Regions from separate parts of the Homo sapiens genome. Here region 1 is linked to region 2. A link means that fine-mapping ties the variant in region 2 to the expression of a gene that starts in the linked region. Tissue or cell type: whole blood. Region 2 holds a variant in brackets; the other region holds the start of a gene. All regions are shown on one strand. Distances are from middle to middle.

Region 1 (8,187 bases), 55 kb after region 2:
CACTCATTCTTACTTTCCCCTTAGGACACACTCTGGCCCAGACAAACAGATAAACATATGAGGTCTCTTAATGGTGTTTGTGGCTGCACCGTTTACACAAAAGGAGATGTTTTGGTTATGACACATCTCCATTTTATACTCAGATGGTTACATGGTTATGGTTACACATAGCTTATGTGACATTTTTCCAGGAAGCCAGCCTCCATAAACCCACAGATTCTAGTTTTATGCTTTTTTTTTATATAGTGTGTTTTGCTCTTGTCACCCAGGCTGGAGTGCAATGGTGCGATCTCAGCTCATCAAGTTCAAGAGACTCTAATGCCTCAGCCTCCCAAGTAGCAGGGGTTACAGGTGAGTGCCACCATGCCCGACTAATTTTGTATTTTTAGTAGAGACAGGGTTTCTCCATGTTGGCCAGGCTGGCCTTGAACTCCTGACCTCAGGTGATCCACCTGCCTTGGCCTCCAAAAGAGCTGAGATTACAGGCGTGAGCCACTATGCCCAGCCTTAGTTTTATTTTTTTATTTGATTTTACCACTAACAATTTTAGACAATCTAATACATCCTGCTAAAATCATTCCATTGATAAGGATTTTGCAAGCAAAACACACTATATATAAGAAACCACTATAGCTAGTAGGTTTGTTATTAGCATGTTTACAATGAGATTTTACCAGGTCAGTAACGTCTTTTGTTTTTTCTCAGGGAGCCCTCTCTCTCTGTTAAAAGAATAATTTGCAGCCTGATGTGAGCAATTTTCTTTCCGCTCAAAGAATGCATTTTCTAAAAGCAGTGAGATCAAAATAAATTTTTCCCTTGGGGATACTAGAACGTATACTGTTATTTTGTTCTGCAACATTTTAGTTATACATTTTTAGGTAGGGAAAAGACTTCACTGTTTATATGTTAAGTGAACATTAGTTTCTTTTCCCTGGCTTTTGACTAAGGTTTAAAAGTTGACTTAGCTATTGAAGTCATCACTTGCTCTTACCAAGGGCACTAGTAAATTGCAGGGGAGGAAGAGGGCATCTTCCTGCAATGGATACTAGGGGATGGAAAGTCCTGCAAAGAGAGACGTTCTTTTGGCAGGATACCTAACTTTTCAAAAGCAAATTTATGTAAGTGAAGCTGGATATTTCAGCGGAATTTAGTCTGGTTTCTCTCGGCAGCACACTCAGAGAATACTTTGAGTAGAAACTTTATTTGGAATTGTGTATGCAATAAATGTAGGAAAGGAAATGTAATAGGAAAGGGAAAGTGGAACGCAATAAAGGTTATTTTCTTAATCTAGCTTCTAGAGGAGGTGACTGGAACATAACACTATTGAGTAATTCTGGGAACTGGGCAAAACACAATGTTCAGAATTACCTGACTTTAGGGCTGAGACTGCTGGACTGTATAGCAAATCACAAGATTCGTTTGTTGACGCCCATTCTGGTGATGATTATTCAGCACTTCCGGATTAGCATGTCTGAGAACAGCAAGGCTTTCAGCAGTTATTGGAGAAAAAAAGAACCCATAGATACAGCTATACAGATAACTAGTTGGCCATAGTTCCCCAAATATTCCAAGGGACATAGGCGAGGCAATGATAACTTCAGGAACAAGTGGAGATGAGTGGGAGAGATACAGTACATGGAAATCATTCACCTGTCTACGTACAAAAATAAATAGAAAGAACAGAGGCCGGGCACGGTGGCTCACGCCTGTAATCCCAGCACTTTGGGAGGCCGAGGCGGGCGGATCACGAGGTCAGGAGATCGAGACAATCCTGGCTAACACGGTGAAACCCCGTCTCTACTAAAAAAAAAAAATACAAAAAATTAGCTGGGCGTGGTGGCGGGAGCCTGTAGCCCCAGCTACTCGGTAGGCCGAGGCAGGAGAATGGCGTGAACACGGGAGGCGGAGCTTGCAGTGAGCCGAGTGAGCCACTGCACTCCAGCCTGGGTGACAGAGACTCCATCTCAAAAAACAAACAAACAAAAACAAACAAAAAAAGAACAATCAGAGTTGGCAGCTCAGAAAGAGTTAAAGAGGTATATACATATATGTTTACTGTGTGTGTGTATGTGTGTGTGTGTGTGTGTGTTTAGGTATCTTAAATATTTAAGCCTGGAGTTCTTGAAGTAAACTTGTATTTGTTGGATTTTTATTTCTAAGTCAGTGAACTAAGATGAAAAAAAGGACAATGACTGATGGACGTATTCTCACCAAACAGGGTTCTAAAAACTTAGAACCTCTAACTTCCAAATAAAGGTGGTTGTGTTAGTAATGAAAGTGTAGTAATAATCCCTATTGCACATTCTGTCATAAATTTGTACTCTCTCAAGAGAAAAACTAAAAGCAAACCCCTAATCTCCTATATTTTGAGGCAATTTTACATGGGGGAAAAATAGTATCAGACAGGTTTCTTCCAGACCAGCTTTTTCTAACACTAAAAATGAATAGATTTCAAGTAAGCAAAGGATTTTTAAATAAATCACTTCAACTAAGATTTGCATACAGTCTGGATGAAGTAGATTTTACGCTTATATTCTTCAGTGAGGATTTATAGCTCAACAAATTTGTTGGTGCAATGAAAGCAGCTCTAGGCACACAATGCAAACTGAAAAGATGGAAAGTTTTGACTTCATAAAAACTGAGAAGTCAAAGTAGTCTTTTCTTTCATTTTTTTCTGTTGTTGGTTGAAAGCCCATCTTTTACAAAAGGGTTTATCTATAGTAATATTATAATGCTTGAACATAAACAATATACAAAATATAATACACAAAACGTTTATTTGAGTGTCTGCTTTTGTATGGGGGTGCATGGTAGATTGTATTTCCAGATACTAAATCATGGATCGAAATCTCTCCTTTCAAGATTCTTATTATAGCCAATCTCTTCCACATTGGAAATTTGACCTGTTCCACATTTGATATTCCTATTAACAAGGTTACTCTTCTGTAGATGAAAAAGTGTATATCGAAGTATCAGTATAGTATCTGAATTAGATAACACACTAAACAATATAATAATGTATTAGTAAAAATAAGGAAAATAAAGAAGCTGAAGTCGTGCTTAAAGAACTTTAAGAAAATGAAAATTGAGGTGTTGAAAAAAGCTTTTAAGGCTAACGTGAATGAGGCGTCCAAGTGGGAAACCCATCCAGTTCTACTTTTTTGAACTTTGCCTGTCGTGGCCAGGATAATTAGGTAGAGATCAGAAGAACAGAGTGAGACATGGAAATCCCAATTTATGTGACCTTGGGCAAATTACTTAGCTCTGTATGCCTCAGTTTTCTCTTTGATAGATTGAAGATATTTATATATCTTTACTATCAAGCCATTTACAGAAATAAATGAGCTAAGATATGCCAAGTGCTTTAAATTGTGTTAAGTACAAGGTAAATAATAAATGTTTATTATTAAAAGAGGAAAATTCTGTAAGTAATTTTGTTATGCTAAGTAAATTTACCTTTGGTTTGCCCATCATTTCCTTCATTTTCCAGATAACCCTTTAAAATGAATTTGATTTTCAAACAATAAAAAACAAAACAGCAACAAAACTCCCTCTGACCTCCTCTCACCTTCTTTAGTCCTTGCCAAAGTGTTAATATTGCAAAAGTACTGTGAGAATTTCCTGTATTGTGGTTCCTGGAACACTTCAGAGGCTTGTGATTCTACTGCTTCTTATTCACACTATAATACATGTCTCACCAATAGATGATTCAAGAACATCATTTAAATACACAATTTTTCATTCTCTATTTTTGCTAAATTTCTTCATACTCAACTTTCAGATTCTTTAATCTCCAGCTCAGCTTCAACAATTCAACGCTGTTCTTTCTGAAAAAGTACACATCGTGCCTTCTCTACTTCGCTCTTGGAACATAATTTCTCATGGCAGGTATGTGTGATTTCAGTCACTAAATTAAAAATAACCAGAAAAGCTATTTCTTGGATTGGCTGATTTTGGGGTAATGCTTTAAGAGAAAAGGACATGATTAACAGTGGATGTTTTTAGGATTTTCATGCATTAGCACTTTCCACATTCATTATATTTTCCTGATTCTTCATTGTATAACTTAGACATGATTTCATGAAGTTTTTTCCACAGGTTTGAAGAGTGGTTTCTGACAGGGCTACCTTTAAATTCTGAGTGAGAACTGAACTTTAGCCTGGTTAAATTGTGAGCAACAGTGTTCTAGTATAGCAATAGAAAATGCCAAATATTAATGACACAATGCTGAAAAGGTTTTAATTGACTATTTATGTTGTGACATCCAAAAATTACACAAATGAACAGTTTGACACATTGTACTGTTGTTAATGACATCACTCTTTGAGAGTGTGTTCACGTTAGCACAGAATCTCCTAATGTTGAAATGTTTTAGGTGAAAGGCCTAAAAGCAAGTAATTTTGAGTATGAACAAATGGAATGTTCTAGGGGAAAAAGGATTGTTTATGTATGTTCAATATACTGTGAAATGAAGCCAGGCCTCAAAGTTGTTACCCATCAATTTGTTATCAGTTATCACACCAAGTCCAGAATGTTCCTATGTCTTCTTTTCCCTATAATATCTCTACGAACCAATGAGCAGCTAGACATTTATCAGAGCAAAACCTGCACTGAGATGAGGAGAGGGCATACTCTCAACTAGTATTATTGTGACAATGGTAGACTACGTTGAATGAAAGATTCTTGAGCTAGACACACTTTCATGTGATTTCTGACTTGGATACTTACTTGCTTTGATACCTTGAGAAAATAACATTATTATTGGACCTTATGTTTTCTCATCTATGTAATGAGAACCATACTATCTATCTTGTGATTTTGTTGAGAGAATAAAAATAAATGCCTGTTATGTAAGTCCATAAAACACAACGTGGTGCTTGTTAATATCTTCTACCTCCAGATCTTTAAGCACCTCTGCCAATTTAAAATAAATGGTAAATTCACTTTACTGCAACAGAGCTGGTAGAGAAGAAAATGTTTGAATAATCTTCCTGAAGAATAAGATACATCACATAAAAATGTTGGTATTGGGTGAAGTCCCGATTGGAAAGTCTTCAGTGTTTTATTGGCAAGATGACTCCGTTATCAAATGAAAGAATGTTGTGGATTCTCCGTCACTAGTTTCTGCTTTTAAGAACTCAGCTCCTGAGTTTGCTCTTTAAGTCATTACTCTGTCTGTCTTTCTCTACAGTGTTTAAGACCACTCTGTGGAGGTTAATTTCTGGGACCTTAGGGATAATATGCCTTTCGTTGATGTCTACGTTGGGAATTTTGTTGAAAAATTGTAAGTTTTTCTAAGCAAGTCTCCATAAAAATCAAAACTGTGAAGACATCATTTAATAATAAAGGCTTCATCTTGCTAATGTGTAATATTTTAGTATTTCATAAACCCATACCTAATTAAACAAATTTCTAATCATTTCTTATAGCTTTTACTAAACTGAGTATTGAGCCAGCATTTACTCCAGGACCCAACATAGAACTCCAGAAAGGTAGGTCACATTTTTTGGAAAACTTAGCATTGGTAAAAGATTAAATAGGCAGTTTCTTGTTTTTCACACAGAGAGGCATGATGGAATATTATACTTAGTAATAGAAATTTGCCTACCAGTGTAGGATAGTCTCATTTTACATTGCTCAATCTAATGTAAAAATGATTAAATTACACTGAATGTGTATCATTTGTACATTTAACTAATCAGGAAAATAGTAGCCTGAAACGAAAGATATGTTTCCTATATGAGTGCTCATAATTAAGTAACAAAAAATAAACCACAGGAAATGTTACAGTTAATCCTCATTACCTGCCTGAATTTGCTTATAACCTATACTTTTGCATCTCACTACTTTTCCTTTTCCAGAATATACTGCACAGATTTCTAAACCTTACTTATCCAGTGAAAGCCAGCTCAAAGTCCAATTTTCGTTTTTGGAGATGGAGTTTTGCTCTTGTCGTCCAGGCTGGAGTGCAGTGGCACGATCTTGGCTCACTGCCACATCAGCCTCCCTGGTTCAAGTGATTCTCCCACCTTCCTGCCTCAGCCTCCCAAGTAGCTGGGACTACAGGCGCCCGCCACCATGCCCAGCTAATTTTTGTGTTATTAGTAGAGTCAGGGTTTCGCCATGTTGGCCAGGCTGGTCTCGAACTCCTGACCTCAGGTCATCCACCTGCCTCGGCTTCCAAAGTGTTGGGATTATGCCGTACCCAGCAGAGCCACTGCGCCCGGCCTCAATTTTCTAAATATGTATTTTTCGGAATGCGCCCCAAGTTGTCTCACCATCATCTTGATTATATAGTGTTTATTTACAGTGCAACATCTTGGCCAGGCACAGTGGCTCACGTCTGTAATCCCAGCTCTTTGGGAGGCTGAGGTAGGCATATTACTTGAGGTCAGAAGTTCAAGACAGGCCAACCCCGTCTGTACTAAAAATACAAAAATTAGCCAGGCATGGCGGCACGCACCTGTAGTATCAGTTACTCAGGAGGCTGAGGCATGAGAATCACTTGAACCTGGGAGGCGGAGGTTGAAGGGAGCTGAGATGGTGCCACTGCACTCCAGCCTGGGCAACACAGCAAGACTCTGTCTCAAAAACAATTAAAAAATATAAAAATAATAGTGCAACATCTTCAGCACTACTTATATGGCAAAGATTTGAGTGCCTATGACGTGTCATGTTTTTATTACCGTGGGTAACAAACGTTGAAGACACTATTATTGATAAACTGTATAATTAAGCCTCAAGATAATTGGTTTATTTATATTCCCTTTTCAAAAATAAGATATCCAAACATATATCAAAATTCTCCAAATGTACCATATTCTTTTCTGACTCAGAAAGTATGCTAAAATGTTTTCCTCCTTTAAATCTTTTTCATCTAGTTAACTCCTATTTATGCTACAGTACTTAGTTTTGAGTCACTTCCTCAAAAAAAGGTTCTTGTAACTGCCCCTCATCTTACACTCTGCTACATGCTGTTTTAACATACTTAATTTTTTTGTACTTATCTAAATCATCACTAAATATCGTTAATAAATTATTGAAAATTATATAATTGTAATTCTATCTCTAGAATATAATCTCCATGAGGAAAAAGCATCATGTTCATGTCTAATTAGTTCACATTAGTAGCCCCTGAAGTGTGGTGTATACAGTAGATTCTGAATGTTAAAAGAATACACAGCAAATAATTTTTGAATAATTAAATAGCATTGAAAAAAATGTCTAGTCTCCAGTGTCATTAGTCATGCTTTATGTTTTCTGTCAGACTCTGACTGCTGTTCTTGCCAAGAAAAATGGGTTGGGTACCGGTGCAACTGTTACTTCATTTCCAGTGAACAGAAAACTTGGAACGAAAGTCGGCATCTCTGTGCTTCTCAGAAATCCAGCCTGCTTCAGCTTCAAAACACAGATGAACTGGCATGTGCTGAGTCTGATTTTCTACATTTTCTTTGATCTAGAAAAATATACTATCTAAACAAGTTAAATACTTTGGTTTAAGTCATTAATCACATAGTAAGTGGATGGTTATATTGGAATTGAGTTATCTGTTCTGTGTACCTTAAAGTAGTCATTGTAAAATCTTTATTAAATTCCTTAATGATTATATCATGGGAATACAAATCAAGATAGGTGCCAAATAAAGTGAAAGAAACTTTTCAGGAAGAATTCAAAGAAGATAATAGGTCATTATATTTACCCATTTTATTTGAAGAACCAACTAAATGACTGTGATTCTTAACTCTTTTAATTGAATTTATAATATCTTTTATAATTTTATAGTTTTTGTCATCTTTCTGGGATATAAGCTAGTATGGAAATATGGTAAGAAAACGTACCCAATTCTTTTCTTTTCTTTTTTTTTTTTTTTTTTTGAGACAGAGTTTTACTCTGTTGCCCAGGCTGGAGTGCACTGGTGCAATTTCAGCTCACTGCAGCCTCCACCTCCTGGGTTCAAGTGATTCTCCTGCCTCAGCCTCCTGAGTAGCTGGGATTACAGACACCTGCCACCAGGCCTGGCACTTTTTGTATTTTTAGTAGAGACAGGGTTTCACCGTATTGGCGAGGCTGGTCTTGAACTCCTGACCTCGGGTGATCTACCCTCCTTGGCCTCCCAAAGTGCTAGGATTACAGGCATGAGCCACCGTGCCTGGCCCTAATTACCCAATTCTTTTTTGTTTGTTTGTT
Region 2 (8,187 bases):
CTTGTGCCCTTATCATATATCAAAATGCTTCCAAGAAAATTAAATATACGGTTTGCAACCAGTGGAGAAACTCTTGGGGAAATCGTCAATTTTTTAAAAAAGAATTTATTGAGAAGCATCCTTGAAACAACTTGAAAAAAGAGTAAGAAATTATTTCATACTTAATTTTCTACAAAGAACAAAATAATGAATCTCACATTTATCACACATATGCAGTGAGAAGGACTCCTGGAGGCTGTAGCAGTCAGTGCCTTTCACACAGGAAGGGACCCTTACTCTGAGCTCTGCTAAGCAGAAGGGTGGTAGTGTCCCATGGTGGCTCGTAATGCATTTCTTGACCCAATGACTTCCTTTGTGGTTTCATCAGAGTTCGCAGGAGCTGCCATCACTCTAGCTTTATGGTTTTCAACTCTAACAAAGTGAGGAGTATAGTAGTCCTTTTGTTTTCTCGAAGACCATTAGGATCACTTGTTGTACATACGTTGTCCGTCATGCTCAGATTTCCTAGGAATTCAACTTCTGTCCTGAGTCTCTGCCTTTATTTCTATCCTGGTGCGTTAGGCTGTCAACCTAGAAGGAAACATTTACATCCCCTCAACCACTCTCTCTCTTAAGTCCTTACCATTTCCCAAGGTGGTGATAACGTTTTGCTTTTTTTTTTTTTTTTTTTTTTTTTTAGGGGGGCTGTTATGAGTGCTGGAAACCAAGAAAGGATGAGCAAAGAAAAAAGTTCCCCTGAGTCATTTGGCCCCAAACATTTTAGCATACCCAAAGGCGCCAGAGCCCTTTCAGTAACATGTATTATTCCTGTTAAAGATCCTTCCCCTTGGTTTGGGTTCTGTAGCTAGACAAAGAGAAGGTTAAGAACATCTGCTTCTGTGTCACATTGTTCCAAACTTTTCTTTTCTTTTCTTTTCTTTTTTTGAGACGGGGTCTCACTCTGTTGCCCAGGCTGGAGTGCAGTGGCAAAATCTCCCGCTCACTGCAACCTCTGCCTCCTGGGTTCAACTGATTCTCCTACCTCAGCCTCCAGAGCAGCTGGGACTACAGGCTCCCGCCACCATGCCAGGCTAATTTTTGTATTTGTCCCAAAGTTTTCTGCTTGACCTAGATAAAACTTGGGTATTAATTTATCAGTTACCTTTTAAACACATTTTAAAATTTACATTTGCAACACCCCTTTGATTATTAACTTCCATTATATGTTGAGGCAAGTCAGTACGAAGTGGTTTCAAAGTCACATAATACTTTAAAAATGGATAGCGTATTAAGGTAATATAAAGGGTCTTGGGTCTGTGAAGCTAGAGAAGATCCAGACCAGGAGAAAGTCTCAGGTATTTAAGAGCATGTTTTCTGGTTAAGGAAAGGATAATTGAAAGCAGCCGCAAGTGCCATGTTTCGTTCATTTACCATCATTATCAACGACTTATTTAATGTAGTCATAATTTTGTAATCGGGATTTCTGAAGTTCCATAAACTGGAGCTAACATATGTTGCCTCACTAGCATTAACTACAGATGTTAACATACTAACCTTTCACTCTGGAGTTTGGGACAGTGAGTGATTATTTGTTATTATACTATTTTCTTTTTGAGATGGGGTCTCACTCTGTTGCCCAGGCTGGAGTGCAGTGGTGCGATCCTGGCTTACTGCAACCTCCGCCTCCCAGGTTCAAGCAATTCTCCTGCCTTGGCCTCCCGAGTAGCTGCGATTACAGGCAAGCACCACCAAGCCGGGCTAGTTTTTGTATTTTTAGTAGAGATAGGGCTTCACCATGTTGTCCAGGCTGGTCTCAAACTCCTGACCTCAGGTAATCCTCCGGTCTTAGCCTCCTAAAGTGCTGGGATTACAGGTATGAGCCACCATGCCCAGCCCTTTTATGCTATTTCTTTGGCAAACACAAAAAGGAATGGTCTGGTCCAGTGGTCCCCAAACTTTTTGGCCCCAGGGACCGGTTTCATGAAAGATAATTTTTCTATGGATGGGAGCAAGAGGGGGATGGTTTGGGATGGTTCAAGTGCGTTACATTTATTGTGCACTTTATTTCTATTATTATTACATTGTAATATATAATGAAATAATTCTACAACTCACCGTAATGTAGAATCAGTGGGAGCCCTGAGCTTATTTTTGTGCAACTAGATAGTCCCATCTGGGGGTGACGGGAGACAGTGACAGATCATCAGGTATTGGATTCTCATAAGAAGCACACAACCTAGATCCCTCGCATGTGCAGTTCACAACAGGGTTTGTGCTCCTATGAGAATCAAATGCCTCTGCGGACCTGACAGGAAGCAGAGCTCTGGTGGTAATGCCAGCAATGGGGAGTGGTTGTAAATATAGGTGAAGCTTTGCTCACTCATTCCCTGTTCACCTCCTGCTGTGCTCCAGGTTCCTAACAGGCCACAGTACCGGTCTGTGGCCTGGGGCTTGGGGACCTCTGGTCTGGTCAATTACACATTTCTCCTGAATTCTGGAGAGACAACATACCAGTTCCTCAGAGGAAACAAAGATTTTCTTAAAAATCACATCAAATTAAATTACTGCTTTTTGCTTATTGAAGTGGATAATCTTACTCTTGTTTTTGTCATTGAAAAGACACTAGGCCAGGTATGGTGGTTTACACCTATAATCCCAGCACTTTGGGAGGCTGATGTAGGTGAATCCCTTGAACTCAGGATTTTGAGACCAGCTTCAGCAACATATTTATGTTCTATAAATGTATGTTCTATAAATAATACAAAAATTAGCTGTGTGTGGTGATGTGCAGGTGTATTACGTATTTTCTATAAATAATACAAAACTTAGCTGGGCGTGGCGATGTGCACCTGTAGTCCCAGCTGCTTGGGAAGCTGAGGTGGAAGAATCACTCAAGCCTTGGAGGTTGAGGCTGCAGTGAGCTGTGATTGCGCTACTGTACTCCAGCCTGAGCAACAAAATGAGAACTTGTCTCCAAAAAACAAACAAACAAACAAACCCCACCACATTCTCAAGTTATAAGAAGTTAGTTCTTCTTCCCTCATGTTACTTAAGATTTGAATTCATGATTGTATAGAATCATTAGTTGTCTTAAACAAGCAAGGGCACTAAATGAATGACCATTACAGGGAAGACAGTAGATTCCATGAGAGGATGTGTCTTGAGAATGTATATGAACATGAAGACTTCATCTTTGAGAAAGAGGAATAACTTTCAGAGGAAGGTGATTCAAGTGAACCAAGACATGACACTGAAGAAGAATGGTGGGGGTGGTAGGGAGTAAAACTATCGCAGCTGTGTGTACACAAAAGGGAATGAACCAGGGTTGGGAGTGCAGTGGTGTGAGTTGTGACTTGGGCCTAGAATGCTTGATTGAACATAGCATTACTGGCTTTGCTGTCCTGAGTGAGTCAGTGGGCAGTTGTAAAAAAAAAAAAAAAAAAGATGAATAATTTAACTTTTAATAAACAAAGTTTGACAATCCTCTGCATAAAACATTTCTTATCTAATGCTTTTAATATTTTTTTATCACTAGTTTTGAAGAACTTAATTATAATGTACATGTAAGTAGATTTTCTTATGTTTCTTTTGCTTGGGGTTCGTGGACTTTCTAGATCTATATGCTTATAGTTCTAGCAATTTGGAAACATTTCAATTTCAGTATTTAAATCTCAGTTTTCAACTGTAAGTTCTTTGAATACTTTTTGCCCCCTCCTATGTATCCAGAGACTGCTTTTAGGCGTACGTTGGGCCCCTTGCAGCTGTCCCGCAGGTCACTGATACTCCGTTCATACACTTTTTAAATGCTCTTTAATGTGTTTCATTTTGTTTAGTTTTCATTGCAATGTCTTCGGATTCGGGCATCTTTTCTTTCACAGTGT[CT/C]TTTTTTTCTAACTTTTATTTTAGGTTTGGGGCTACCTGTGAAGGTTTGTTACATGGGTAAACATGTGTCATGGGGGTTTGTTGTACAGATTATTTCATCACTCAGGCATTATACCCAGTACCCAATAGATACCTTTTCTGCTCCTCTCCCTTCTCTCACCCTATCCCCTTGAGTAGACCATGGTGTCTGTGATTTCCTTTTCTGTGTTCATAAGTTCTTATCATTTAGCTCCCACTTATAAATGAGATCATGAGGTGTTTAGTTTTGTTTCTTCATTAGTTTGCTAAGGATAGTAGCCCCCAGCTCCATCCATGTTCCTGTAAAAGGCAGGATTTCATTCTTTTTTCATGGCTGCACAGTATTCCATGGTGTATATGTACCACATTTTCTTTATTCAATCTGTGATTGATGGGCACTTAGGTTGAATTCAAGTCTTTGCTATTGCGACAAGTGCTGCAGTTATCATTCACATGCATGTGTCTTCGTGGTAGAAGGATTTATATTCTTCTGGGTATATACCCAGTAATGGGATTGTTGAATTGAATGGTAGTTCTGTCTAAAACTATAAAAACGCTGGAAAACAACCTAGGCAATACCATCTTGGACACAGACAGGAATGGGCAAAGATTTCGTGACAAAGACACCAAAAGCAATCGCAACAAAAGCAAAAATTGACAAGTGGGATCTAATGAAACTTAAGAGCTTCTGGACAGCAAAAGAAACTATCCACAGAGGGCAGGGCATGGTGGCTCACGCCTGTAATCCCAGCACTTTGGGAGGCCGAGACGGGTGGATCACGAGGTCAGGAGCTCGAGACCATTCTGGGTAACGTGGTGAAACCCCGTCTCTACTAAAAATACAAAAAATTAGCAGGGCGCGGTGGAGGGCGCCTGTAGTCCCAGCTACTCTGGAGGCTGAGGCAGGTGAATGGCGTGAACCCGGGAGGCGGAGCTTGCTTGCAGTGAGCCGAGATCGCGCCACTGCACTCCAGGCTGGGCGACAGAGCCACACTCCGTCTCAAAAAAAAAAAAAAAAAAAAACCTATCAACAGAGTAAACAGACAATGTACAGACTGGGAGAAAATATTTGCAAACTATGCACCTGACAAAGGACTAATGTATATCCAGCATCTCGAAGGAACTTAAACAAATCTACCAGAGAAAAACAAACAACCCCATTAAAAAGTAGGCAAAAGGCTGGGCGTGGTGGCTCACACCTGTAATCCCAGCACTTTGAGAGACTGAGGCTGGTGGATCACCTGAGGTTAGGAGTTTGAGACCAGCCTGGTCAACATGGTGAAACCCTGTCTCATGTAAAAATACAAGGAAAAATTAGCCAAGCGTGGTGGCGCCTGCCTGTAATCCCAGCTACTCTGGAGGCTGAGGCAGGAGAATCACTTGAACCCAGGAGGCGGAGATTGCAGTGAGCTGAGATTGCGCTACCGCACTCCAGCCTAGGCAACAGAGCGAGATCAGTCTCAAAAATAAATAAATTAAAAAAAAAAAAGAAAAGTAGGCAAAGGACATGAACAGGCACTTCTCAAAAGAAGACATACTTGTGGCCTACAAGCACATGAAAAAAGCTCAACATCGCTGATCATTAGAAAAATGCAAATCAAAACCACAATGAGACACTGTCTCACATCAGTCAGAATGCCTATTATTAAAAAGTCAAAAAATAATAGATGCTGGTGAGGATGCAGAGAAAAGGGAATATTTATATACTGTTAGTGGGGGTGTAAATTAGTTCAACCCTTGTGGAAAGCAGTACGGAGATTCCTCAAAGAGCTAAACTGCAGTGTCTTATATCTACTAGTAATTTGAGGACTTTTAAAAATTATTCATTGTAGCTAAAGGTTTACTAATATTGTTAATCTTTTCTAAGGTCCAACTTTTGGCTTTGTTTATTTTCTCTATTTTCCACTCTATTTTATGTACATACCTTCTAGTATTTATTGTTCATTTGGCTGGCGTTGGGTTTAATTTATTTTCCTTTTTCTAGTTACTTAAGGGATGAAGTTAGGTTGTTGGTTTAAGATGTTCTTTCCAATGTATTTAAAGATATAAATTTGCCTCTAAGCACTACTTTTGTTGCATCCCGTATGTTTTGGTATGTTGTGTTTTTATTTTCATTAGCTTTAAGATATTTTCTAATTTCCCTTGTATTTTTTCTTTGACTCATTGGTTATTTAAAAGTGTTGTTTACATTCTAACTAATTTTCAAATTTTTAGTTTTACTTCTGTTACTGAATTCTAGTTTCATTCCATTGTGATAGGAAATAATGCTTTCTATGAGTTTACTCTTTTAAAATTAATTAAGACCAGTTTTGTGGTCTAACATATAGTCTGTCCTGAAGAATTCTCCATGTGCACTTCAAAAAAATGTATATTCTGCTGCTGTTGGTTGGAATATTCCATATGTCTTTTAGGTCCAGTTGGTCCATAGTGTTGCTCAAGTCCTCTACTTTCTTATTGTTCTGGTTGTTTTTTGCATTATTGGACATAGGCATTACATTCTCCAAGTATTATTGGAGAGCTATCTATTTGTCTCTTCAGTTATGTCAAAGTTTGTTTCATATATTTAAAGGTTCTGATATTTAGTGCCTATATGTTTATAATTGTGATTTATTCTTGAGGAATTGACACTTTTATTAATATATGATATTCTTTGTCTTTTATATATATACATTTACTTTATCTGACATTAGTATGGCCATCCCAATTTCTTTTGGTTACTCTTTGCTTGGAATATCTTTTCCATTCTTTCATTTTCAACTTATATGTGTTTTCAGGTCTGAAGTGAGTCTTTTATAGACACCTTCTTATTAGATCCTGTTTTTGCTATCAATTCTGCCCATCCATGCCTTTTAATTGGGAATTTTAATTCATTTATATTTAATGCAATTACTGATGGGGAAGGACTTATATTTTCCATTTTCCTATTTATTTCAGGGTGTCTTATAGTTATTTTCCCACTCATTTTTTCCATTATTGACTTTCTTTGTGATTAGCTGTTTTTTTTTTTTTTTTTGTAGAGACACATTTTCATTATCTTCTCCTTTCCTTTTGTGTATATTCTATAATTTGTGTTAACTTAAAGATTATTTATAATATTTAAAATTTTTAACAACCTATTTTTAATCAATACTAACAACTTCAGTGGCAAACTAAAACTCTACTCCTACACAGCTCCACCCCTCTGCTTTATGATATCAATATCATAAATTACATCTGTATTTATTTTGTAACTATTAACATAGATTTATTATTAATTTATTCAATTGCTTCTAAATGTTATAAAAAATAAAAAGTGAAATTACACACCAAAATCTTAATGATGTTGGGCATTATATTTCGCTGATGCATTTATCTTTACCAGAGATCTTTATATCTTCATATGATGATGATGAATTATTGTCTTGCATCCTTCCATTTTACTCTATAGAACTCTCTCTAGCTTTTCTCTTAGGGCAGGTTTAGTGCAATAAACTGCCTCAGATTTTTTTTATCTTGAAATGCTTTAATTTCACCCTCATTTTTTAAGGATGGTTTTGCCAGATATTAAAATTTTGATTGACAGTTTTTTTTAATTCATAACTTTAGATATACCACCTCTCTGCCTTGTGGCCTCCAAAGCTTCTGCTGGACACTCCACTGGTAATTTTATCAAGGAGCCCTTGTTTGTGACAAATATTTTCTTGTTTTGTTTTGTTTTTTCTTTTCTTTTCTTTTTTTTTTTTTTTTTTTAAGATTTGCTGCTTGGCTTTGGCTTTTGCCAGTTTGATTATATCTTATTGTGGGTCTCTTTTCATTTATGCTACTTGGACTTCATTAAGCTTTTTGGATTTGTAAGATTCATGATTTTTTTTTAAAATCAAATTTGGCAAATTTCTTTATTTTTTAAATACTCTTTCTTTTCCTATTCTATGACACTTATAATGGGTATATTGGTCTGTTAAATAACGTCCATTAAATCTCTTAGTCTCTGTTCACTTTTCTCTGTTCTTTTAAAAAATTTCTTGTCTTCTGACTCAGTAATTTCAAATGGTTTACTTTCCAGGTAGCTGATTCTTTTTTTTTTTTTTTTTTTTTGTAGTAACAGTATATTTTTCAGTTCTGTTATTTAATTTTTCGTCTCTAGAATTTGTTTGATTTTTATATTAATATTTTCTATTTGTTGATATTCTCATTTTGTTCTATGTATCACCCACTTTTCTTTAGTTATTTTTCTGTTTTTTTCTTTAACTTTTTGAGCATATTTAGTACAGTTATTTTGAAGTCTTAGTCTACTGATCTGATATTTGTGCTCCCTCATGAACAGTCTCT

Evidence for each region. PIP is the estimated chance that this variant, and not a neighbour inherited with it, causes the effect.
Region 1: it holds the start of KLRD1, and the variant in region 2 is fine-mapped to the expression of KLRD1 in whole blood (TOPMed, PIP above 0.99).

What each region holds. Positions count from the first base shown.
Region 1 is chr12:10,304,197-10,312,383 of GRCh38, forward strand. It overlaps KLRD1 (killer cell lectin like receptor D1), which reads left to right and starts at 3,674. Exons shown (of 6, transcript NM_002262.5): 1 at 3,674-3,888; 2 at 5,192-5,284; 3 at 5,430-5,492; 4 at 7,268-7,419. The coding sequence starts at 3,882.
Region 2 is chr12:10,249,551-10,257,737 of GRCh38, forward strand. It overlaps a transcript of KLRD1 not described here. Among named protein-coding and RNA genes, the nearest start is that of GABARAPL1-AS1, 39 kb to the left of the region's middle. The variant CT/C (reference allele first, on the strand shown) is at 3,861.